Linked DNA regions of Homo sapiens. The protein of the gene in region 3 interacts with the protein of the main gene of each other region in a pairwise test. Each region holds a gene or a part of one and is shown on either strand. Other genes may lie near its edges.

Evidence for each region.
Region 1: the proteins of ZP3 (region 3) and UBAP2L interact in a two-hybrid assay, tested with the Homo sapiens proteins (one study listed by BioGRID and IntAct).
Region 2: the proteins of ZP3 (region 3) and PCDH17 interact in a two-hybrid assay, tested with the Homo sapiens proteins (one study listed by BioGRID and IntAct).
Region 4: the proteins of ZP3 (region 3) and MICALL1 interact in a two-hybrid assay, tested with the Homo sapiens proteins (one study listed by BioGRID and IntAct).

What each region holds. Positions count from the first base shown.
Region 1 is NC_000001.11:154,251,934-154,258,967, forward strand, and holds part of UBAP2L (ubiquitin-associated protein 2-like), read left to right. Parts: intron 1-1,966; coding exon 1,967-2,156; intron 2,157-2,902; coding exon 2,903-2,957; intron 2,958-3,218; coding exon 3,219-3,393; intron 3,394-3,749; coding exon 3,750-3,822; intron 3,823-5,129; coding exon 5,130-5,325; intron 5,326-5,412; coding exon 5,413-5,501; intron 5,502-7,034. UniProt on the Homo sapiens protein: Recruits the ubiquitination machinery to RNA polymerase II for polyubiquitination, removal and degradation, when the transcription-coupled nucleotide excision repair (TC-NER) machinery fails to resolve DNA damage.
Region 2 is NC_000013.11:57,725,737-57,729,838, forward strand, and holds the end of PCDH17 (protocadherin-17 precursor), read left to right. Parts: 3' UTR 1-3,575; downstream 3,576-4,102. UniProt on the Homo sapiens protein: Potential calcium-dependent cell-adhesion protein.
Region 3 is NC_000007.14:76,434,931-76,441,964, forward strand, and holds part of ZP3 (zona pellucida sperm-binding protein 3 isoform 1 precursor), read left to right. Parts: intron 1-5,319; coding exon 5,320-5,411; intron 5,412-5,544; coding exon 5,545-5,681; intron 5,682-6,911; coding exon 6,912-7,034. UniProt on the Homo sapiens protein: Component of the zona pellucida, an extracellular matrix surrounding oocytes which mediates sperm binding, induction of the acrosome reaction and prevents post-fertilization polyspermy.
Region 4 is NC_000022.11:37,909,275-37,916,308, forward strand, and holds part of MICALL1 (MICAL-like protein 1), read left to right. Parts: intron 1-2,677; coding exon 2,678-2,726; intron 2,727-3,076; coding exon 3,077-3,218; intron 3,219-7,034. UniProt on the Homo sapiens protein: Lipid-binding protein with higher affinity for phosphatidic acid, a lipid enriched in recycling endosome membranes. On endosome membranes, acts as a downstream effector of Rab proteins recruiting cytosolic proteins to regulate membrane tubulation.

The DNA.
Region 1 (7,034 bases), on a different chromosome or scaffold from region 3:
CAAGACCAGCCTGGGCAACATAATGAGTCCCTGTCTCTACAAAAAAAATTTTTTTTTAAACACAGAGTTTCACTCTGTTGCTTAGGCTGGAATGCAGTGGTGCGATCTCGGCTTACTGCAACCTCTGCCACCCGGGTTCAAGCGATTCTCCTGCCTCAGCCTCCCGAGTAGCTGGGATTACAGGTGCCCACCACCATAACCAGCAAATTTTTGTATTTTTTAGTAGAGATGGTGTTTTACCATGTTGGCCAGGCTGGTCTAGAACTCATGACCTCAAGCGATCTACCCACCTCGGCCTCCCAAAGTGCTGGGATTACAGGGGTGAGCAACCGTGCCCAGCCCAGATTTTTTTTTTTTTTTTTTTTTTAGATGGAGTTTTGCTCTGTTGCCAGGCTGGAGTGCAGTGGTGTGATCTCGGCTCACTGTAACCTCTGCCTCCCAGGTTCTAGCAATTCTCCTGCCTCAGCTTCCTGAGTAGCTGAGATTACTGGAATGTGCCACCACATCCGGCTAATTTTTGTATTTTTAGTAGAGACAGGGTTTCACCATGTTGGCCAGGCTGGTCTTGAACTCCTGACCTCGGGTGATCTGCCCTCCTCGGCCTCCCAAAGGACTGGGATTACAGTCATGAGGCACCACGCCTGGCTCAGAGTTTTGCTCTTGTTGCCCAGGCTGAAGTGCAATGGTGCAATCTCCGCTCACTGCAACCTCTGCCTCCCAGGTTTAAGCAATTCTCCTGCCTCAGCCTCCCTAGTAGCTGGAATTACAGGCATGCACCACCATGCCCAGCTAATTTTGTATTTTTAGTAGACATGGGGTTTCACCATGTTGTTCAGGCCAGTCTTGAACTCCTGAATGGAGATGATCTGCCCACCTTGGCCTCCAAAAGTGCTGGGATTACAGGCGTGAGCCACCACACCCGGCCCAAATCTTATATGGTTCTTGAGGGAGCCTAGAATTCAGAATTCTCTAAAATGAGTGTGAACAAAAGATGGCTTTTCCTGTGCTTAGGGTCCATGTTATAATGTATAGAAGGGGCCAAGAGTAATGTATCCTGTATACCGACATTTAGCCACTTTTTTATTTTGAGACAGAGTCTTGCTCTTGTCACACAGGCTGGAGTGCAATGGCACGATCTCAGCTCACTGCAACCTCTGCCTCCCAGGTTCAAGTGATTCTCCTGCCTCAGCCTCCTGAGTAGCTGGGATTACAGGCGCCCACCACCATGCCTGGCTATTTTTTGTATTTTTAGTAGAGACAAGGTTTCGCCATGTTGGCCAGGCTGGTCTCGATCTCCTGACCTTGTAATCTGCCCACCTTGGCTTCCCAAAGTGCTGGGATTACAGGCATGAGCCACGGCTTCCGGGTCCACTTTTTCTTATAACAGCAAAATGTAGGGGGGAGCCAAGGGACTTTTCTCTTCCTTGAAGACTTGAAGATGTTTTTAAGATTTTTTTTTTTTTTTTTTTGAGATGGAGTCTCGCTCTGTCACCCAGGCTGGAGTGCAGTGGCTTGATCTCGGCTCACTGCAAGCTGCGCCTCCCGGGTTCATGCCAGTCTCCTGCCTACTCCCAAGTAGCTGGGACTACAGGTGCCCGCCACCATGCCCGGCTAATTTTTTTGTATTTTTAGTAGAGACCATGTTAGCCAGGATGGTCTTGATCTCCTGACCTCGTGATCCGCCCGCCTCGACCTTCCAAAGTGCTGGGATTACAGGCGTGAGCCACTGCGCCCGGCCTAGATGTTTTTTTAAGATTAATTCTTAATTCAGATCTCTGGCGCTATAGAAGGTAGGGATTCCTAGTGTTATCAGGAGGAAATTTTGGTAGATTCTTCTATTTGTTGCTGAAAAATTTCTTCTTGATTCAAATCAAGTTATTCCACTAGTAGATCTCCACGATTTCCTTAGTATGAGTAGATATGCTCTATTTTGTTTCTCTGAGATTTTTCTCTTCGTTACTCACAGTGAATCATCCTCTACAATTTCATCTAACCAGAGTCAGGAGTCTGGTTATCAGAGCGGCCCAATTCAGTCGACAACCTATACCTCCCAAAATAATGCTCAGGGCCCTCTTTATGAACAGAGATCCACACAGACTCGGCGGTACCCCAGCTCCATCTCTTCATCACCCCAAAAGGACCTGACTCAGGCAAAGGTAGTGGCTTCATGAACCCTTGGGAATTGGTTAGGAGAATAGTGGGCAAAAATTCCTTAAATATTAGTGTTTTACTTTTCAGCAAGTGGTGCTAAGAAACTTTGGAAGTAGTGATTGAGAATTTGAAAAAGGCACACATCTGTGGCTAGTGAATTAAAAGTTCTTATCAGCAAACCCGGAGACTGAAGAGCCAGGAAACCATTCTCTTTGTACTAAAAATTCATTGCCTCTAGTAGAATCAGTCTCAAGTGCCTGTCCTGTCTTCTGGGAAGATGTGATTGCCAGATTTCTGGGTGCGTGTCAGTAGACCTCACCTTGCTAAGTCCTGGCATGGTGAGGGAGACAGCATGTGCCAGAGGTGATGTGGAGTGAGTGTCAGATGCAGCCAGCGGAATAGGTGGTGTGGCTGAACTGTTGTACTTACCCTTCCCCAAAAATCACTGGATGTGGACTTTGGGCCTTTCCTCTATCTGTTTTAGGTTTGGGGTGTCTTCAACAATTTGTAGGGTTTCCTTCTTTTGCTTTTGGTCACACAGTGTTGGTATATCTCAGTTTTGTTGTTTAATTTTTGTTCCTATTTTGGTTTTTTGGATAGTCTACATTGTATTAATATTAATCCTTTTGGTTAATTTACAGAGTTTCTCCTAAAGATTTGTTGACCAAAATAAAGCTGCATCAGTGCTAACTTTCCTCATTCACATGAGTTTGTCTGTTTCTTGCTCTTCTGTTTTTTTTTTTTTTACCAGAATGGCTTCAGTTCTGTGCAGGCCACGCAGTTACAGACCACACAATCTGTTGAAGGTGAGTGTTCTTCAGGCTTTTCCCCTCCTAAGTTTCTGGTTTTCTATCTTAAAATGGTGATAATCCATTAGTTCCCTTCACTGGACAATTGAGACCCATGCTGTGTAATTCTCAGCATTAAAGAAAAAAGATTCTACCTAATATAGTCCATTGTTAAATAACTCATCCTTTTGTCTTTGGAACTGCCTTGGACTGTGGTCACCTCTCTATAGACATTCCCTTTTTTCTGATGAGAGGAATTCCTTTCTTCTAAATTTCTAGGTGCTACAGGCTCTGCAGTGAAATCTGATTCACCTTCCACTTCTAGCATCCCCCCTCTCAATGAAACGGTATCTGCAGCTTCCTTACTGACGACAACCAATCAGCATTCATCCTCCTTGGGTGGCTTGAGCCACAGTGAGGAGATTCCAAATACTACCACCACACAACACAGCAGGTGATTTGGGGTGAGGATGGAGGTTGGGGTTGGTGAATAGCAATAACAGAGCTCTCTGGTCCTTATTACTCCCTTGACCTGGCAGAGACCACATTAGCCCTGCTTTTGTCGTAAGTGGGTGACCTAAGAACTGTGGGAAGTGAAGACAGAGGAGGCTTGTTTTAATTTTCCCCTTTCAACATCCACTTTTGCTTTAACTGCTCTCTACCCCTGGCTGGCCATTGTGCTTAACATATGATCTCAGACCTCCTTGGTGTCCCATATTATGTCTTATTTCCTTGTTATGTTCTTGACTGAAGCTCCAGGTCACGTAACTATAGCACTATGGCTGATGGCAGCCTCTTTTTTTCTGACAGCACGTTATCTACGCAGCAGAATACCCTTTCATCATCAACATCTTCTGGGCGCACTTCGACATCCACTCTTTTGGTAAGTGTGATGCTGAGAGGGATGTGTGGTTTTCTTACACTTAGAACTGTCCAACTGTAAGATTGTCCCAAGAGAGAATTATTGAAAATTTCTTCATGAGGTGGCAAAATAATTGATTTGAGGTTGCAGGAAAAGGAGTAAAGGGATGTTAGGAAGCCAAGAGAGGCAGAAGAATCCCTAAACATTGAGCTCTGGGTCATTCCTAAAAGCCCTGAAAGTGACTTTCTGATTTTTTTCCCCTACTGAATATATAGTTGGGCTTTGTATGCTTTAATAAATTCTGGAAGAACATACCTTTCCAACTGGTAGAGCTGTTCTCTTTCCTTGGTCTTGGGTATGCCCAAGTTCTGAAAAGAATCAGTGCAAGGCTGGACATTTTTGTGAAAGTAGATGCCAGGTGAGAGCTTTTGGTCCAAGAGTCAATTTTATTGTTTTGATTTGTAACAACTATTAATAGAATTAAGCTGAGCCTGTAAAGGGAAGGACCCATTTTGGACAAAAGTATCAGATTTGCCGGAAGCCTGGGGAGGTATGAGGGCTAAGGCTCCTTTAGGAGTCTCTATTCAAATACACAGTTTCAGATTTAAAGTCAGAATTGTGGACAGGTGCAGTGGCTCACCTCTGTAATCCCAACACTTTGGGAGGCCAAGGCAGGAGGATTGCTTGAGCCCAGGAGTTTGAGACCAACCTGAGCAATATAGTGAGACCTCATCTCCATAAAAATTTTTTGAAGATTGGCCAAGCATGGTGGTACATTCGTAGAGTCCTAGCTACTCGGGAGGCTGAAGTGGAAGGACTGTTTGAGCCCAGGAGGCCAGGGTTGCAGTGAGCCAAGATTGCACCACTGCACCCCAGCCTGGGCAACAGGATGGGACCCTGTCTCAAAAAAAATGTAAAATCAGAATTTTTGCTTTTTCCTAGTCCACAAACTGGTCTCAACTAGTAAAGAAAAGTTGGGGAGAGAAAGCTGTGATATATTTTTTACATCTCAACTCTCTCTGTTCCTTTATCAGCCAGTGTTAGTCTCTGGGGAATCTGTCTCCATTTGCTTTACTGTCTTTCTGAACAGGATGATGATGTGCAGTGAGTCTGTTACCATTCTTGCCAGATGAGTCTTGAGGAATATGTAGCTGGAGATTATTTCTAACTACTTTAGCAGGGTGTACTTTGGTACCTTGCCTACTTGGCCTCTTTAATTAGGAAGTTGACATCATAATATATTCAGCAGGAGGGATTGTCTTATTTTTCCTGACCTATGATGCTGATCTCTTTTCTTCTTCTCTCTTCCACTGCTCCCCCTTTTGAAGCACACAAGTGTGGAGAGTGAGGCGAATCTCCATTCTTCCTCCAGCACTTTTTCCACCACATCCAGCACAGTCTCTGCACCTCCCCCAGTGGTCAGTGTCTCCTCCAGTCTCAATAGTGGCAGTAGCCTGGGCCTCAGCCTAGGCAGCAACTCCACTGTCACAGCCTCGACTCGAAGCTCAGTTGCTACGACTTCAGGTAGCCTTGCATAAGCAGATGGCATTCCTCTGGGATGGAGGAGGTAAGTAATTGTGTGATGGGATAAAAATGTAATTTCTCTTTTAGGAAAAGCTCCTCCCAACCTCCCTCCTGGGGTCCCGCCGTTGTTGCCTAATCCGTATATTATGGCTCCAGGGCTGTTACATGCCTACCCGGTAAGTGGGACTAAAGGATCTTCTTCAAAAGGTGAGGATGTTGTGGCTACTCTTTTTATAGCTCTGGCTTCAGATGGACCCCTGTGAATACCAAAACTTGCACATACTCAAGCCCTGCAGTTGGCTCTGTGGAATCCATGTATATGAGTTTTGCATTCTGTAAATGTGGCCGTATTTTTGATCTGTGTGTCTGGTTGGAAAAAATTCATATATAAACAGCGTGCAGTTCAAACCTGTGTTAAGGGTCAACTGTAATTAAAATATAAAATAAATGAGGGATTGCCACATGTAATCAAACTGGTTTTTAATCTTTGCAGTTTTGGAAAAAATACTAAACTGAGGCCAACCCATCTATTGTGTATCTGCTTTGGTTTATGGTGCACACATGTATGCATGTGTGTGTGTGCGTACAATGTGTATGTATATGTGTGATGAGAATATCTGCCCTGTTTGAAACACAGCTTCTGGGCCTCAGAAGCCAAAGGCCAGAATGTTCATCTGGAATCCTTTTTGGTTTCTTAGATAATTATGACTATTATTTTATTTTTTGAGGCAGATCTTGCTCTTTTACCCAGGTTGGAGTACAGTGGAACGATCATAGCTAGCTCACTGCAGCCTTGAACTCCTGGGCTCAAGCAATCCTCTCACCTCAGACTCCCCAAGTAGCTAGGACTACAGGTGTGCATCCCCATGCCTGGCTAAGTTTTAAAAATTTTTTTAGAGACAGGGTCTTCCTATGTTGCCTAGGCTGGTCTCAAAATCCCAGGTTCAGACAGTCCTCCTGCCTCAGCCTCTCAAATAACTGGGGTTATATATAGGCCTGAGCCACTACTCCTGGCCCCAAGAATTATTTTCTCTGATTTGATTAAATCCCTAACTCTGAGTGTGTTTGCTGGTCTGGCCTGGTTAGAGGAAAGTTTCCTGACTCAATCTGGGACTTTGAGAATAAGTGGCTGACATTAGTAGCTTTTTGCCCTAGTGTATCTTCTGTGACCTTCAAGTATTTGGTACCTATTAAGATGAAGGATATATGGAAACGTTTTAGAAGATACCTGTTCCTGCCCTCATAGACAAAGTCTAGATAAATTTCATACCGATGACACATCCAAATAACACAGTTACACATTTTTAATTTGTGGTCACTACCTTAAAACCCTGACATTGGAGAAAAGTGAAGTATTCTTTCCAGAGGAGATTATTTTTAAGCCAGATTTTGAAGAGTATAAGAGACAGAGACTTGTAGAATAGAGAGTAAAACTGGTTGTTCGTGTATGTTTTGTGTCTACTCTATTGGTATCAAGAAGCCAGCCTACTAGAATCAGTAGTATTTAGCTCAAGGAAAGCTTCAAGACCTTTCATGAATCATTTAATCTCTGTGTACTTTACTGCTTTTTCCTTAAATAAAATTGAAGGAAATAATCCGTGTCCTGTTCTAACCCAGAATGAGGATGAATGTTCTGTTGAATTAGCTTGTCTCTTGGCTCCTTGTTTTGCTAACATCATGACCAGTTCCTGTTATTGCTATATGTCTGT
Region 2 (4,102 bases), on a different chromosome or scaffold from region 3:
TGTGGTGGATTTCTAGCAGTCATCACAGGCTTCTACTGAAAGTCCTGAAAAGACCTTGCAGTAGTCCAAGCTACACCAAACATTAACACATATTTGTGGTAAACATTTCTGTATAAAGTTACCTGACACACATATAAACACAAGGAACATTCCATATCATTAGTCGAAAACAAAAACAAAAAAAAAACCTTTGGTCATTTGTAAGACATCTCATGTCATATAAAAGTTAAATGTAAAAAGATACAGTCCATTTTGTCCTGCACACACGTAGACTAATTCACGTCATTAAAGAAGAAGAAAACTTAAAGATTTAAAATGCCTATTTAGCATTTTAGTGTCCAACAAAGATTTAAACAATGATGAATATGTTTTAAATTTGACATAGAAAAGTTCTAAAAAATAGTTACCATTGAGTGGTAAGATTCAGAGAAAATTAACTTGATTAATATGTTTTATTCATTTGTGGACACTAAAATAGCTCAGGAAAGTGAAAATGTCTTAGACATACGCAAGTCACATGACCATTTAAATGTGCAAATGTAAGAAGATTCAATGTGTTTACATCAAATGACATATTTTATTGATTTATTGCAGATTCAGTGCATATGAGCCAAATTGTTGAGTGTGTAAGAGCTATATTGTGTATTTTATTAAATTAATATATAGTTGTGTTGCAAAAATATTTGGGCTTATATTGTAAATGGCAAGTGTTGCCTTGGTAGCTGTCGAACTCTATGAGTTTTGTTTTTTCCTGCTTCCTTTTCCCCATGGAGTGTGGGAAGCAGTGCCTCAGAGCAAAGTCTCTTGTTTAATGTATAGTCTACCAAGTACTACAGTACATAATCTGTTCAAAATGTGTTTGAGTGAGCTGATGGAGCTAACTGAAAGGTCAAAAATTACATCCATCAGTCATGGTTATGTGCAAGTCCTTGTAGAAGCTTTTATTAAAGTCATGCTAAATCACAAGAATTGACATTTGTACCAATATCTGAAACTTCTTCATGTTTTTTCAATAACATACAGCTTCTGCCTGTGTAGATATTATGCCATCAGTTGGTTCTCAAAAGTATTTTAAGTGCTTCAGATGTGTGTTCCCATTATATTTTGAAAACATGAAAAATGCTTTAATGCATGTATGTACCAGCAGTGGTTACTTGCATTGTGTAGTGTTTTTCAAGAGGTCTGGGTCTTAACAAAATGTTTTCCTTTATCTCAGTGCTCTTCTGCCTCTTTTTGTTGGTGTCCTTTGAGAACAATACACCTTCTATTCCTTCATTTGGTTACACCTTTCCTTGTGACATTTAGCGAGTTTCAAACTTACTTCCATATGAGGCTAAGAAACCTCAAATTTCAGGAATTGGGAAAAATAAAATTAGCACTTGCAGAAGTAGCAGCAGATGGGAAAATGCCTTGATTGACATTTTCTTTCAGCATTTAAAATTTTTGGCATTTTACAGCTTCATGACAAACAGTTTTGTGCCCATACCTTAGAAAATGTGGTGCTGAGTTAAATAAAGGCTGTTTGAGCACTGGAGCAGAAAAATGCATTATTTGCAAACTGGTGGATAATTTTGTGCCTTCTCTTCTGGCCACCAAGCCAGTGTAGAAACAGCAAAAATGTCATAAAAATTCTTATATTTAAAACAAAAACAAAAGCAAAAACAAACATTGAATTAAATTAAGTTTTGTAATTTTAAACTTTAAAAACTTCTACTGAAAATATTTCCGCCAAATGCCATCAATATTTTAGACTGTACCTCGTTTGCAAAACTGCTTTGAGAGGGAAGAGTGGACAACTCCCATCAGCCTTATTCTCTTGAGAACTATATTTTGGTTCCTAGTAACAGCCTTTCCAAAGCTCTACTCTTGGTTTTTATTACTCATAAATGTTTAAATTAGAAAAGAAGGGACCTTGTACATGTGAAACCTAATTGACTCTCTATATTTTGGACAATTTATGTATCTGAAATGTGTTGTCTCTGTTATATGATGTTATTTTTGCCAGGAGACTACAGGTTGATTTAGCTTGATAGCTGAAATTTGATGGAAAACTGATTTCCATTTAGTCTTACCAAGTGTTGCTTCTCTCTTACTAGACAGATATCCACTTAGTAAAATCTAAAGCAGTATGTAAATGAAACCAGCAAAGAGAGTAGGGTTTATTTTATAAACATTCTTAATGCTAAGTAACCAGTTGTTCAATTTATTATATGTGTCTGAGGACATTAAAACACCATAAGGTTGTAATAATTGGTTGTGCCAATGTGTGAGGGATTTACCTTTAGGCTCTCTGTCACCAGTGATTTACTAGTGTTAGCTGTTTAACACATTATCTGTATTTAGTAGTGATTATTTATTTACAAGTTGGTGGTAATTCAGCAGTCAGGACTCTAAGCTTTTATAGTTGAATTGAGGAAATCTCGCTTTTATTCATTTAGCTGGCAACTGCCTTTATTGCAGACCTCTGGTGCTTGGCTTTCAAGGAAGCCTATGAGATGCCAAAATCACACCTTTAGAGAGCACCTTGCTCTAATAGGTGATGCATGAGCAAACAGTGAGATTTGAAGGGGTTTTAACATAATTTAGAATGTGAAAAAAATATCAATTCATATCTTTCAAGTACTAACCCCTCAAAAAAGCCCACACATACAAAATATGTGATGTGATACCACTTTGTCTTTTAGGTCTTTAAGTAACTGAAGTTAAGCACAGAAAAAAAAATCACTTCATGGAAATTTCAGTAAGAAACCCAAACTTCTAAAAATTGCTTGCAGATGAGCTAAAAAAAAAAAAAAAAAAAAAAAGCAACAAAATAACCTTTTCATCAGAGTTAAAAGTAGTGAGAATCTGTTAGTTATACGTATACCAAAGTAAACATTAAAGAGACATATCATGCAATTTCAAAGAATTCTTTCATGCTATTTCTTAACCTGACATTTCTAACTTTATTGCAGGCAATATACAAAGATTGGCTCACTACTCCATAGGTTAATTGAATTCCTGGTTGAGAAACTAACTTGTTTTGTTTTCCAAAATTAGCTGAAATCTTGTAAAACATGACTTCCCTTTAAAGGATCTAGATATTGTTCAATTTAAAATATGGCACCATAAAAAAGTCATGTAGTAATAGAGCATATGCTTTTTTAGAACCAGGTTAAAAGCTGTTTGTTATCTAATAGAGTAAAAGTTACTGAGGTCAACAGATAGACAGGTCTGGCATAATATATGCCCAGTCATAATAGTCTAATTATATTCTTTTGACAACAGACAGCATTCATCAGAGCACTAATTCGAATGAGAGTTTTGGCTATCAAGATGTGTTGATTCTAAATATTATTGAATGAGACCTGATTAAAGTCTGACTTTCCTGGCCCCAGTGTTTTGCAGGTTGGCTATTTCCATTATCAGCCCATCACTCCATAAAGTTCTTAGCTGCACCAAGTGATTGGTGAACAAGGACAACAACAAAAGCAGCATACATTGTATGGATTTATCTCAACGCTATTGTTTAATGGCTGTGTTTAATGTGATCTATCTGGAAAATGAGGACTCCGAATAAAAAGCTATTACTAATAGTGGTGTTGCCTTCCCTTGAATTCATTAACCCAGAAGGGATGTGTTACACACTTCCCTGTGCATATCACAGGGACCCTGATCATAATTATTTTGGAAAAGCAAACTGTGGCATCACAGCTCATTTTGCTAGTTATCTGCTTGCCATTAAAATAAGACTTTTTTAAACAAAAATTACTTGATAGTATCACTAGTTTCTCAATAGAAGTGGATTAACAATCTTTCACATAGCTTAGATAAATTGGCTAGTTAAATAATTACCAAAGGGTCATAGCCTAATAATATTTGTGGTTTTAAATATTTACAATTAATATAAAGAGAATTTGGCATAAGATCTCAGAGGATTTCAGAAAAGTACATTTATAAGCTCTGTCATAATCTTACATGACTAATGAAAGCAAATAGAATAGTCCTCTCTCATCCGCAGGGGAAACGTTCTGAGACCCCTAGTAAATGCCTGAAACTCCAGATAGTACAGAATCCAATATATACAATATGTATAAATGGTATTTTAAAGTAAACACATATT
Region 3 (7,034 bases):
TAAGAGGGAAGGAGAAGGAAGGAATGAAGATGGGAACTGCCTAATGGCTGAGGTGGGGGAGGGATGCAGTAGGAAGTGCAGGTGCAAGGACCAACATCTAGCCGGGAAGTACTGGTAAGTGGTTAGAAGTAAATTGCCTGGTGCGGTGGCTCGTGCCCATAATCCCAGCACTTTGGGAGGCTGAGGCGGGCAGATCACGAGGTCAGGAGATTGAGACCATCCTGGTTAACACGGTGAAACCCCCTCTACTAAAAATACAAAAAATTAGCTGGGCATGATGGTGGGCACCTGTAGTCCCAGCCACTCCAGGTTCCCAGGTGCAAGTGATTCTCCTGCCTCAGTCTCCCAAGTAGCTGGGAGTACAGGTACCCGCCACCATGCCTGGCTAATTTTTTTGTATTTCTAGTAGAGACAAGGTTTTACCATGTTGTCCAGGCTGGTCCCAAACTCCTGACCTCAGGTGATCCGCCTGCCTCGGTCTCCCAAAGTGCTGGAATTACAGGCGTGAGCCACCATGCCCAGCCTCAAGTAGCTTTTAAACAAGCTCACTGAGATGAGAGGTGAGGCGGTGAGCTTAGAATAGGTGGTTAGGAAGTGATTAAAGTAGGGGTTTCCAGTGCTGGCTCTATACTAATCATCTGGAGAGGTTGTAAAAATACTGATTGTAGAGAGTCTCATACCTTCACTCTATTGGGGTAGGGCATGGTGTCACATTTTGTAACATTAACTAAATCTTCATAGGTGTTTGCTGTAAAACTCCATGAACTTCAGTGTGCACACCATCTAGGTTCTACCACCAGCATTTTTTTTTTTTTTTTGAGACAGTCTCACTCTGTCACCCAAGCTGGAATGCAATGGTGCGGTCTTGGCTCACTGCAACCTCTGCCTCCGGGTGCAAGCAATTCTGCCTCAGCCTCCTGAGTAGCTGGGATTGTAGGCGCCTGCCACCATGCCCGGCTAATCCTTGTATTTCTTAGTAGAGACAGGGATTCATCATTTTGGCCAGGCTGGTCTTGAACTCTTGACCTCATTATCCAACCGCCTCAGCTTCCCAAAGTGCTGGGATTATAGGCATGAACCACCACGCGCCCCCCGCCCCCTTTTTTTTTTTTTTTTTTTTTTTTTTTTTTTTTTTTTTTTTTTTTGAGAGGGTCTCTGTCACCCAGGCTGGAGTACAGTGGCCCAATCTTAGGTCACTGCAACTTCCACCTCCCAGGCTCAAGCGATTCTCCTGCCTTAGCCTCCCAAGTAGCTGAGATTGTAGGCATACGCCACTACTGAGTGCCTGTTATATTTTTAGTAGAGATGGTTTCACCATATTGGCCAGGCTGGTCTTGAATACCCGACCTCAAACGATCCACCTGCCTTGGCCTCCCAAAGTGCTGGGATTACAGGCGTGAGCCACTGTACCCGGCCTGCTAGCATTTTACTGTTATCCTCCATCTACTGACCTACCTTATTCTACTTGGAAATGCATCAAAAGCCACTTAAGCTCCTAGGTGACTCTAATACGCAGCCAGGCTTGCAAACCTCTGAAGCAGAGGCTCATACGTCAGGGTGGCATTAAGGGACAAAGTAGAAACTTTTCAAAGATGACATCGATGCCACTTCACCTCCTCCAGCAGCTGCCTTGTGGGAAGAGAAAGATCAACACACAGATCAGTAGGGTAGCAAAAGGGAAAAGCATCTAATATTGATGAGATGGCCTGAAGCTCTCAGTGGTGGGCCCTGCTTCAGTGGGGCTGGGGATAAAGGAGGGCAGATTTGGGAAAAGAGTCCTGGCCCTCGGATCAGTGACCGATAGCTCCTTAGGGGAGAGGATCCTGGTTGTGGGAGGAAGTCAAGATTGACCTCAGGTGTGGCCATTTGGGAAGAAGATGGAGAGAAGTTTTCACAGAGGTGGTAGCGGTCAGCATGGGTATGGACTGAGGTGGTTTCTCAATCTCTGGGGGTTGAGGGGTAACTAAGACCAGAGAACAGTGCTGTTTAATGGAAGATAGTCTGAGCCCTTGGAGGGCCCCCCTTCAAAGGTAGGATTGATGATGCCTCAGTAGACTATGTCCCATGGCACAAAGAAGGAACAACCCTATTTCAGAGCAATAGGGTGGCTGGGCACGGTGGTTCACATCTGTAATCCCAGCACCTTGGGAGGCCGAGGTGGGAGGATCAGAGTTCAGGTGTTTAAGGCTGCAGTGAGCTATGATGGTGCTATTGCCCTCAACAGAGCAAGACCCTGTGTACTTTTTTTTTTTTTTTTTTTTTTTGGACAGAGTCTCGCTCTGTCACCCAGGCTGGAATGCAATGGCATGATCTCGGTTCACTGCAACCTCCACCTCCTTATTCAAGCCATTCTCCTGCCTCAGCCTCCCTAATAGTTGGAATTATAGGCACTCAATCACCACGCCTGGCTAATTTTTGAATATTTAGTAGAGATGGGGTTTCACTATGTTGGTCAGGCTGGTCTTAAACTCCTGACCTCAGGTGATCCACCTGCCTCAGCAAGTGCTGGGATTACAGGCATGAGCTATCACACTCCCCTCTTTTTTTTTTTTTTTTTGTTTTTTTTTGGGGGGAAATGGAGTGTCACTCTTGTTGCCCAGGCTAGAGTGCAATGGCGTAATCTCAGCTCACTGCAACTTCCCATCTCCCAGGTTCAAGCAATTCTTCCATTCCAGCCTCCCAAGTAGCTGGGATTATAGGCACCTGCCACCATGCCCAGCTAATTTCTGTATTTTTTTTTTTTTTTTTAGTAGAGATGGGGTTTCACCATGTTGGCCAGGCTGGTCTCAAACTCCTGACCTCAGGTGATCCACTGACCTCAGCCTCCCAAAGTGCTGGGATTACAGGCATGAGCCACCACGCCCAGCCTAGACCCTGCTTCTAAAAGGCCGCTATAGGGGAACTGCCCTGGGATCTTAGACTCCAGTTAGCACCAGAAAAACATACTAGGAAAAAGCTAAGGATGAAAGTACATTTCCTTTGTGGAATAGACAACAGGGCCTTGGAAGCTTCTTACTTGCAGGGCAGGTGGCTAAGATGGGCAGCTGGACAACTGCTAAACTGGCTTGTTTCTAAAAGTCTGAATTTACATGGTTTCAAGTTTCTCTGCTGGTGTACTTGGCCACTAGGTGGTGACTGAGGCTTGTGGCTCTGAGGCTTCTGCTGGAAGGTGGCAGAATTGCCATGCTCTGCCCGAGGTTGAGCAGGGAGGAATTTTAGCCCTGCCTGAAATATGAAGGGAAACTGACCTGGGGACGGGCCAAGGCTAGACTGAGCCCTGGCTCTGTCAGAATGGCCCCTAGCCCCAGCAGCAGGATGGAATGTCAGTCTAAAATGAGAAGGCTTGGCCAGGTACGGTGGCTCATGCCAATAATCCCAGCACTTTGTGAGGCCAAGGCAGGTGGATCACTTGAGGCCAGGAGTTCAAGACAAGCCTGGCCAACATGGGGAAACCCCATCTCTACTACAAATACAAAAACTAGCCTGGTGTGGTGGTGGGTACCCGTAATCCCATCTACTTGGGAGGCTGAGGCAAGAGAATCGCTTAAACCTCGGAGGTAGTGGCTACAGTGTACTCCAGCCTGGACTAGAGACAGACTCCGTCTCAGAAAAAAAAAAAAAAAAAAAGGGTAGCGGGGCAGTGCTTACAGGGTAGTTGACTATTCCCTGGGTGGTGGGGGGTCTTTCAGCTCCCAGCAGGAGCTCATATTGGGTTCATTCCCTCGTACTTGTCTAACGAGGGTGGGTAAACGTTTCCCAGAGGCCAGGACTGTCAGGGTATCAGCCTGGTGAGTCTTCTGGTCGTCATATCCCTTACAGGTGAAGGGAGACTGACGTAGGCTTGACTAATAGCAGAGGTATGTGCAAGGAAGAAAAGCCCAGGGAAGCTTGCCCAAAGAGTGAGCCATCAAACTCAAGTCTGGCCGGGCGCAGTGGCTCACGCCTGTAATCCCAGCACTTTGGGAGGCCAAGGCAGGTGGATCACAAGGTCAGGAGTTCAAGACCAGCCTGGCCAAGATGGTGAAACCCTGTCTCTACTAAAAATACAAAAAAATTAGCGAGGCATTATGGCAAGTGCCTGTAATCCCAGCTACTTGGGAGGCTGAGGCAGGAGAATTGCTTGAACCTAGGAGGCAGAGGTTGCAGTGAGCTGAGATCGTGCCATTGCACTCCAGCCTAGGCAACAGCAAGACTCCACCTCAAAAAAAAAAAAAAAAAAAACCTCTTAAGTCTGAAATGGAAACTCCACAGAAGCAAGTCCAAAAGGCTTCTTTATGTGCCCAAGGACCTCAGGTCCCAGAAACAACTTGGTCTTGCCTTAGCTGGCAATACAGTGACTACATCCCTGAAGAAAAGTAGCTTGTCAACTAGTCAAGTGGCAGGTGGCAGCGTCAGAAGCCCAGCTAAGCTGCTAGCTATTAAGGTGTCTACCACTCACCTCGGTCACCTGGGGATGGGCGCGGGTTTAGCAATGCTGAGTTAAGCCCAGGACTGGCCAGGCACGGATAGCTGGCACCTGTAATCCCAGTACTTTGGGAGGCTGAGGCGGACAGATCACTTGAGCCCAGGAGTTTGAGGCCAGCTTGGGCAACATGGCAAAACCTCATCTCTGCAAAAAATCCAAAATTAGCCAGGTGTAGTGGCTTGTACCCGTAATTCCAGCTGCTCATGAGGCTGAGGTGGGAGGATCCCTTGAGCCCAGGAGGTCAAGGCTATAGTGAGGCATCATCATACCACTGTACTCCAGCCTGGGTGACAGGCCCTGTCTCAGAAGCCCAGGGTCAAGCATGCTCAATGATTGGGTAAGTTTGGAAAAGATCAGGGGAATAAGTGGTGGATTCCAGTCTAAAACTAGTTGCTACTTGCTCTAACATTGGGTAAGTGAACCTTTACACCATCTTAGAGATGAGGCTCTTCCTTCCCCCTGTTTATTTTATGAGACAGTCTCACTCTGTCAGCCAGGCTGGGGTGCAGTGGCATGATCTCGGCTCACTGCAACTTCTGCCTCCCAGGTTCCAGTGATTCTCCTGCCTCAGCCTTCCAGGTAGCTGGGACTACAGGTACCCACCACCACGCCCAGCTAACTTTGTATTTTTAGTAGCGATGGGGTTTCACCATGTTGGCCAGGTTGGTCTCGAACTCCTGACCTCAGGTGATCTACCCGCCTTGGGCTCCCAAAGTGCTGGGATTATAGGTGTGTGCCAATGCACCCGGCCCCTTCTCACTCTTTAAAGGGTTGAGGGTTATAAGAGAACTGGTGTGTTAAACTCCCAGGCACAGCCTGGAACTCGGCCTGGAAATAGCTGTTATTCCTTGCAGATATACATCACCTGCCACCTGAAGGTCACCCTAGCTGAGCAGGACCCAGATGAACTCAACAAGGCCTGTTCCTTCAGCAAGCCTTCCAACAGGTGAGGAGGACAGGTGCTCCGTGACTGGAGTAGAAACTGAATCGGCGACCCCTTGTCTATTTCCCCCAATATATTATCAGCAAACTGCTTCCTGCAGGCAACAAAAATCTAAGCTGCTTCTCTTTCATCTCAGCTGGTTCCCAGTGGAAGGCTCGGCTGACATCTGTCAATGCTGTAACAAAGGTGACTGTGGCACTCCAAGCCATTCCAGGAGGCAGCCTCATGTCATGAGCCAGTGGTCCAGGTCTGCTTCCCGTAACCGCAGGCATGGTATGTCACAGAATGGCCAAGAGGCTGTTCATTGTCCCTTACTCAGTTGAGGGTACCTGCTGTCATTTCAGGGTGATGGTATTTTCCCTTGTCCTCCATTAAAACTGTTTGTACCTAGGCCTGCAGCTACCTTTCCCTAACACAAATCTTGGGGTTAAGCAGGAGGGGCTCTCAGCCTTCCACCTCGGTGGCAGCCAGGGAGATCTGCTGTCATCCTAGGCTTCTACTGAGACATAATTAGGCATGTAGGGGAAATATAGCAGTTGTTAAGATAATCTGGCTTGGCATAGTGGCTCAGGCCTGTAATCCCAGCACTTCGGGAGGCCAAGGCGGGCAGGTCACCTGAGGTCAGGAGTTCGAGACCAGCCTGACCAACATGGAGAAACCCCATCTCTACTAAAAATAAAAAATTAGCTGGGCGTGGTGGTACATGCCTGTAATCCCAGCTACTTGGGAGGCTGAGGCAGGAGAATCACTTGAATCTGGGAGGCAGAGGTTGCAGTGAGCCGAGATTGCACCATTGTACTCCAGCCTGGGCAACAAGAGTAAAACTGTCTCTCAAAAAAAAAATAATAATCTGGCCAGAACAGTGGGTTGTGCCTATAATCCTAGCACTTGGGGAGGCTGAGGCCAGGGAAATCGCTTGAGCCCCATGAGTTCTCGACCAGCCTGGGCAACATAGCAAGACCCTGTCTCTACAAAAAAGATGATGTACTAGGGAATCCCTCTTGGGTGACCTGCTTTCTCCGTATGAGAAAGCTGTCTTTTTCTTTTTTCTTCCCCCTCCCCTGCACCAAGATGGTGTCTAGCTCTGTCCTCCAGGCTGGAGAGCAATGGCACGATCTCTGCTCACTGAAACCTCTACCTCCCAGGTTCAAGCTATTCTCCTGCCTCAGCCTCCCAAGTAGCTGAGACTACAGGCATGTGCCACCATGCCCAGTTAACTTTTTTATTTTCAGTAGAGACGGGTCTTGCCGTGTTGGCCAGGCTGGTCTCAAACACCTGACCTCAGGTGATCTGCCTGCCTCAGCCTCCCAAAGTGCTGGGATTACAGGCATTAGCCATCACACCTGGCCGAGAAAGCTGTGTTTTTTTTGTCTAGAAACTGTTTATTAGCCCACACAAAAAAGACAACATATTAGTTTAGCCCACTGAGGCAGAATAAAACCTCCAACCCAGTTCCCGGTTAGGGACTAAGATAACCCTTGGTTGTGTGTTCTCCTTTCACAGTGACAGAAGAAGCAGATGTCACCGTGGGGCCACTGATCTTCCTGGACAGGAGGGGTGACCATGAAGTAGAGCAGTGGGCTTTGCCTTCTGACACCTCAGTGGTGCTGCTGGGCGTAGGCCTGG
Region 4 (7,034 bases), on a different chromosome or scaffold from region 3:
AACTCCTGACCTCAGGTGATCCGCCTGCCTCGGCCTCCCAAAGTGCTGGGATTACAGGCGTGAGCCACCATGCCTGGCCGAGCCACGTAGGTTTTTTTTTTTGAGACGGAGTCTCGCTCTGTCAGCCAAGCTGGAGTGCAGTGGCATGATCTCTGCTCACTGCAAGCTCCACCTCTTGGGTTCACGCCATTCTCCTGCCTTAGCCTCCCGAGTAGCTGGGACTACAGGTGCCCGCCACCATGCCTGGCTAATTTGTTGTATTTTTAGCAGAGACGGGGTTTCACTGTGTTAGTCAGGATGGTCTCAATCTCCTGACCTCGTGATCCACCTGCCTTGGCCTCCCAAAGTGCTGGGATTATAGGTGTGAGCCACCGCGCCTGGCCAACCACGTAGGTTTTAAGCAAGGGAGGGATGTGGCTGGAAAAAATGTGCAGGGGAGGGTGGCTCCGCTTCTGAGATCCAGAATCATGTCCAGGCATTCATTTGCAATATTGCCAGCGCATTGCACAGGAGAGAAGCTGAGGCCCAGGTCCCACATAATGTGTAGGGAAGTCCTCAGTGATGGGTTGGGAGGATCTCCGTGAGAATAGGAGTGGCCTAGAGTGAGGGCAAGAATCATCTCCTAAATTGGTTCAGGCTTCTGGGGCTGTGGGCCCTGCCTGGGTGAACCCAGTGTTGGCCCAGGGCTCTGCTGGGACGAGGGTTGTGGGGGCTGGGCCATCCCTCCGCACCACCCGAAATCCAGACATGCTTAAGCTCCTTTGAGGGCGTGGACCATGTGGGTTTCATTTCTGTGTCCTTCATCTTCCCCAGAGCCAAGTAGAACTCCGCAGGCCTCTGAAGACTCTCAGAAAATATATGTGTTACCAAAACACAGATGTTAATTAGGGACAGAGATGGGGGTGGAAGAAAACCTGCAGGATCCTGAAGGTTTTTTACAGTTTTCACACTGTTTTCAACATTGATTCATTCAACAAACATTTACGGAGCATCTTCGAAATTTGGGGAACTGTGTAGGGAGTTGGGGGCACAGAGTAGCTAGAATGTGACCCCAGCCTTCTTGGAACACTTCTGGGGTGACCGAAATAAACGGCTGAGACAAGTTGCTTTTGTCTCATTTGGTCTTGGAAAAAGCCTCTGTTGGGGGCTGGGTACCATGGTGTTTTCCTCGCCCTGTTGCAGTGTCCTGAACCGGACCGGGAGACAGAGGTTTCGAGAGGTGAAACACCTTGCTAAGGTCGCACTCTGAGGCAGTGGCAGAAAAGGGGAGCTAGGGAGGCAGCCCAGGGGAGAAGGAAGTGGCCTGGTCAGAGTGGCAAAAAGGGAGCTGGTGCCCAGACATAGTCACCTTGCCTCTCCCCGTCCACCCAGCCCTGGGGCACCAGACCCCTTCCAAGGTCCTCAAGCAACTCTTTCCTGCCCAGGGTTCACAGTCCCTGGCCCCTGCCTGGAAAAGTGTTGGGGGCAGGAGGAGGGGGCTGTGCTTACCTGGCTCCCTCATATCTGCGAGGCCTGCCCTTTACCAAGCTGGGACTCCACCAGCTTGGGAGGTGGTATTAGTGCTTTTCCTGATTTGCACATGGGACAATGAATGCTGGAAGGACTGCTGATCCCCCCAACCCCATGGTCACATGGGAATTCAGCCCTCAGAGGCGGCGTGGCCTGCTCTTGCCTCTGCCCACCCATCTCCGGCAGTCAGGGCTGCAGTTTTCAGCCATAGAAGGGCAAGGCTGCATGCGGATGCACCCAGGAGGCTGCCCGGCGGGAAGACTGAGCTGTCTCTGCTGGTTTCAGCGGCCTGGAGTGGGGAGGGAGGAGGGGGATAAATAAAGCCTGCAGGCCAGCCAGCTGTCCCGTGCTGGGGCCCCCAGACAGGCCCTGCCACCTCTCACCTTTCCTAGTTTAGAAAATCCCTCACTGCTTCCCCAATGGAGGCTGCCCCAGGAGTGGCCCAGTGGGGCCAACCAGCTGTTCTATGCCAGCAGCTCCGGAGTATGTACATTTCCACTCTGGTTCAAACTTGTTCTTCTATTCACGGCCCCATTAAGAAAAACATTCATCTGCAGGCTGGACCGGGTTGGGATGCAGCAAGTTGGTGTGGCTACTCCGAGTGTGTGACACACCTGCAGGGGCCTGTGAGCAGTGGGAGGGCCAGACATGTGGATTCCCAGGGCTGGTGGCTTCCTTTCTCCAGGCCTCAGTGTCCTCATCTATAAAATGAGATCAATTCTTGCCAAACAGAGTTGCTGTGAAAAGAAAGTAAATGAGACAGAGGAGCCCAGCACTGCGCCCTGGGGGAGGTCACATGCGGGTCTTAGTTATGTCTTTGCCACGGACTCCAGGGGTGGCTTCCTGCAGAGAGGCAAAGGATCTTAAGCTTGAAAGCCTGGGCTTGAGCCTCACCCCTTCCCAGTGATTTCCTAGCCTCTGCTTGGATGCCTCCAGGGCCCGTGATCTCATGCCCTGCCCTGCCCTGGCAGCTCCAGCTCTAGCAGCGAATGTTTGCTGCCTCAGTTTCCCCCTTAGTAATCCACAGACTCCCCCCCAGCAACCCTGCTGAGGTTGATGCTGGCTGGGACAAGGTCTTCTCTGTTCAGCTCCTTTCTGACTCTGACCCCGCCCCTATTTCCCAGTCACCTCCCCTCTTGACCAACCCTCCTCCCTTTGCCTCTTGCAGAGATTTTGATTCGCTTTCCAAGGACAATGTCTTCGAGAATAACCGTTTGGTAAGTTCCCGGACAGGTGGAAGCCCAAGAGGCTCTGTGTATGTGTGTGTGTGTGTGTGTGTGTTTGGTGGGGAGGGCAGGGGTCTTGCACGGTGGCTGCCCTTGTACACCGGCCCTGGCTGCACCTTTCCCCACCCTCTGCTTCCCACCAGCCTCCTCATGCATGGAGCACCAGGCTTCCCCTTTCTCCAGGCCATCCTGTGGTGCTTGGGTGGGATTAATACTGAGGGGAGCCCACAGTCACCCCATCCCACTGAAGGGAGCTGGGCCTAGGCTGAGGGGTCGCCCCCTAACGCCTCCTCCTCTTCCTGCTTCGGCTGCTCCCGCCCTTGTACCTGTCACCACCCCAGGCCTTTGAAGTGGCTGAGAAGGAGCTGGGGATCCCCGCTCTCCTGGACCCCAATGACATGGTCTCCATGAGCGTCCCTGACTGCCTCAGCATCATGACCTATGTGTCCCAGTATTACAACCACTTCTGCAGTCCTGGCCAAGGTGAGAGGGGGACTCAGCGTTTCACGGAGGCTGGCCCAGGGGGTGGCCCTGGGGATGTCTGATGCTTGCTACTGGTTTTCTGAGTTGTAAACAGGCTGCTGAGGAGTGTGTCATTCATTTACTTATTCATTAATTCACTCATTGAAATATTTCTTTTTTTTTTTGAGACAGAGTTTCGCTCTTTTTTTTTTTGAGATGGAGTCTTGCCCTGTCACCCAGGCTGGATTGCGATGGCACGATCTCGGCTCACTGCAACCTCCGCCTCCTGGGTTTAACCTCCTGCCTCAGACTCCCAAGTAGCTGGGATTACAGGCACCCGGCACCACGCCCGGCTAATTTTTTGTGTCTTTAGTAGAGACAGGGTTTCACTATGTTGGCCAGGCTGGTCTCAAACTCTTGACCTCGTGATCTGCCCGCCTTGGCCTCCCCAAGTGCTGGGATTACAGGCGTGAGCCACTGTGCCCAGTCCCACTTTTTTTTTTTTTTTGAGACGGAGTTTCACTCTTGTTGCACAGGCTAGAGTGCAATGGCACGATCTTGTCTCACTGCAACCTCCGCTTCCTGAGTTTAAGCAATTCTCCTGTCTCAGCCTCCTGAGTAGCTGGGATTACAGGCACCCACCACTACACCTGGCTAATTTTTGGTATTTTTAGTAGAGATGAGGTTTCACCATGTTGGCCAGGCTGGTCTTGAACTCCTGACCTCAGGTGATCTGCCCGCCTCAGCCTCCAAAAGTGCTGGGACTACAGACGTGAGCCACTGGTGCCCGGCCTGACATATATCTTGAGTAAAAGAGCCTGTGCTGGGCTCTGGGGATGCAGCTGTGAATGTAATCACTGCTGAAGTCCCGTGGGGGAGATAGACACCAAACACACCCACCAGAAAATGAACACAATCATATCAGAGGAGACACAGCAGGTTGCGTTCATCCGCTGCATGGAGTCCACCTCCCCGGCACCCACCCTCACTTCCTGTTTGCAGACACTTCCTTGGGTTTTTCCTCCAGCAGGGAAGTGGCTCTGTCTGGTGAGGCTGCTGTGCTGTCTTCCACAGAAGTGACTGAGAGCTGAGAGGCTGGGGAACTGGGGAACCAGAGTTGCAGGGGCTACAAAGTGACTCGGTTCTGAGTGAGGTCACTGGGCATTCCCATGCAAGGACCTCCCTTGCAGGTAGCTGGGCCTCCCCTTCTGCAGAGATGAGATAGGCCTAGAGAGGGGAAGCAAGGAGCTCAAGATCACACAGCAGACAAACTGAACAGCTGGGTTGAGAATCCAGGTGTCCTGAATCCAACGCTGGATTCCTGCTGTCCCTGGGTCTGAGTAGAGCCCATTTCAGCCCCTCCCTCCTGCCTCTGCTGTCGGTCTAGACAGTTCTGGCCCAACTCTTTTTTTTTTTTTTTTGATACAGAGTTTTGCTCTTGTTGCCTAGGCTGGAGTGCGATGGCGCGATCTCGGCTTACTGCAACCTCTGCCCTCGGGGTTCAAGTGATTCTCCTGCTTCAGCCTCCTGAGTAGCTGGGATTACAGGCATGCACCAACATGTCCGGCTAATTTTTGTATTTTTAGTAGAGATGGGGTTTCGCCACTTTGGCCAGGCTGGTCTCAAACTCCTGACCTCAGGCGATCCACCTGCCTCGGCCTCCCAAAGTGGTAGGATTACAGGCATGAGCCACTGCGCCCGGCCCTGGCCCAACTCTTTAAAGTGTTTTATGAAGTCAGAGGTTTCTTTTCTTTTCTTTCTTTTTTTTTTTTGAAATGGAGTTTCACTCTTCTTGCCCAGGCTGGAGTGCAATGGCGCGGTCTCAGCTCACTGCAACCTCTACCTCCCGGGTTCAAGCGATTCTCCTGTTTTAGCCTCCCAAGTAGCTGGGATTACAGGCACCCGCCACCACACCCGGCTAATTTTTGTAGTTTTAGTAGAGACGGGGTTTCACCATGTTGGCCAGGCTGGTCTCGAATTCCTGACCTCAGGTGATCCACCCACCTCAGCCTCCCAAAGTGCTGGGATTACAGGCATGAGCCACTGCACCCAGCCATCTTTTCTTTCATTATATATATATATGTATATATATACATGCATATACATATATATGTACATATATTATGTGTATATATGCGTGCGCGCACACACACACACACGCACATATATGTGTATTTTTTTTGAGACAGGGTTTTACTCTGTTGTGTTGCCTAGGCTGGAGTGCAGTGGCATGATCACAGCTCAATGCGTCCTCAACCTTCCTGGGCTGCGGTGATCCTCCTATCTCAGCCTACTGAGAAGCTGGGACTACTGGTGCATGCAACCACACCCAGCTAACTTTTATATTTTTTGTAGAGGTGGAGTATCACCATGTTACCCAGGTTGGTCTTGAACTCCTAAGCTCAAGGGATCTACCCTTCTCGGCCTCCCAAAGTGCTGGGATTACAGGCATGAGCCACTATGCCCAGCCATAAATAAATAACTTTAGGAAAAAAAGAAAAAATAGCCGGGTGAAGTGGCTCATGCCTGTAATCCCAGCACTTTGGGAGGCCGAGGCAGGTGGATTGCTGTTGAGACCAGACTGGGCAACATAGCAAGAACCTGTCTCTACCAAAATAAAAATAAAAAAATTAACCAGGCATAGTGGTGGCACACCTGTAGTCCTAGCTACATGGGAGGTTGAGATGGGAGGTTTGCTTGAGGCCAGGAGTTTGAGGCTGCGGTGAGCTATGATCACGCCAGTGCACTGCAGCCTGGGCAACAGAGCGAGACCCCATCCCTAAACAGAAAAAATAAACAAGAAAATTTAGAACATGGCAAAAGCAGAAAAATTAAAATAATGTCTTATACCCCTTCCCCCTGATGTAACACTAGGGATTAAAATAATTGAACAAATAACATTATGTATATTTTAATAGAAAACAAAATGAAAGTATTTCCAGACCCCAGAGGCTCTGGTGAGAGGCAGTCTAAGGTTGGGGTTAAGAGCATGGACTCAAAATTTTCACTCTGCCATTTCCTCTTTGGGTGACCATGGGTCAGTTATTTAACCACTCTGCCTCAGTTTCCCTTTTGCAGTGAGGATAGGAATAACACCCATCTCACAGGGTTGACTTGAGGAGTAAATGAGGAAATGTATAAACCAGTGTTTGGCACCTATTTAGATTAGTATTCTTTTTTTTTTTTTTTTTTGAGACAGAGTCTCGCTGTGTCATCCAGGCTGGAGCTCAGTGGCACAACCTTGGCAGACTGCAGCCTCTGCCTCCCATGTTCAAGCGATTCTCATGCCTCAGTCTCCCAAGTAGCTGGGATTACAGGTGCGCACCACCACGCCTGGCTTAATTTTTGTATTTTTAGTAGAGATAGGGTTTCACTATGATGGCCGGTCTGGTCTGGGATTTCTGACCTCAAGTGATCCACCCACCTTGGCCTCCCAAAGTGCTGGGATTACAGGTGTGAGCCACTGCGCCCAGCCAAGATTAGTATTCTTACTACTTCTTATTTCACTGATTAGCGTTTAGCTGGATTCCTTAGAATCGCAATTCAGCCTTAGCCTGCGGCCTTCCTTGTGGCCAAACCTGAATCTCTCTCTACTGAGCTCATCTCTGGGACTCTGCGGGGTGGGTGGGGTGTGGGCAGCTGTTGGTGGTACGCAGCTCATTCGTTGGCCCTCTCTGGGCAGCCTGGTGGGCAGGGGCAGCCCTGGTGGGCACAGCTTACCGTGCTGAGTGTGGGCATGGGCACTCCCTCGCCCTGCAGGGATTCTCATTGATAAAGGTACAGTTTGTGGCAGACAGTCCTTTGTTATGCTGCCTGTATTTTCAGCCTCGCAATGTA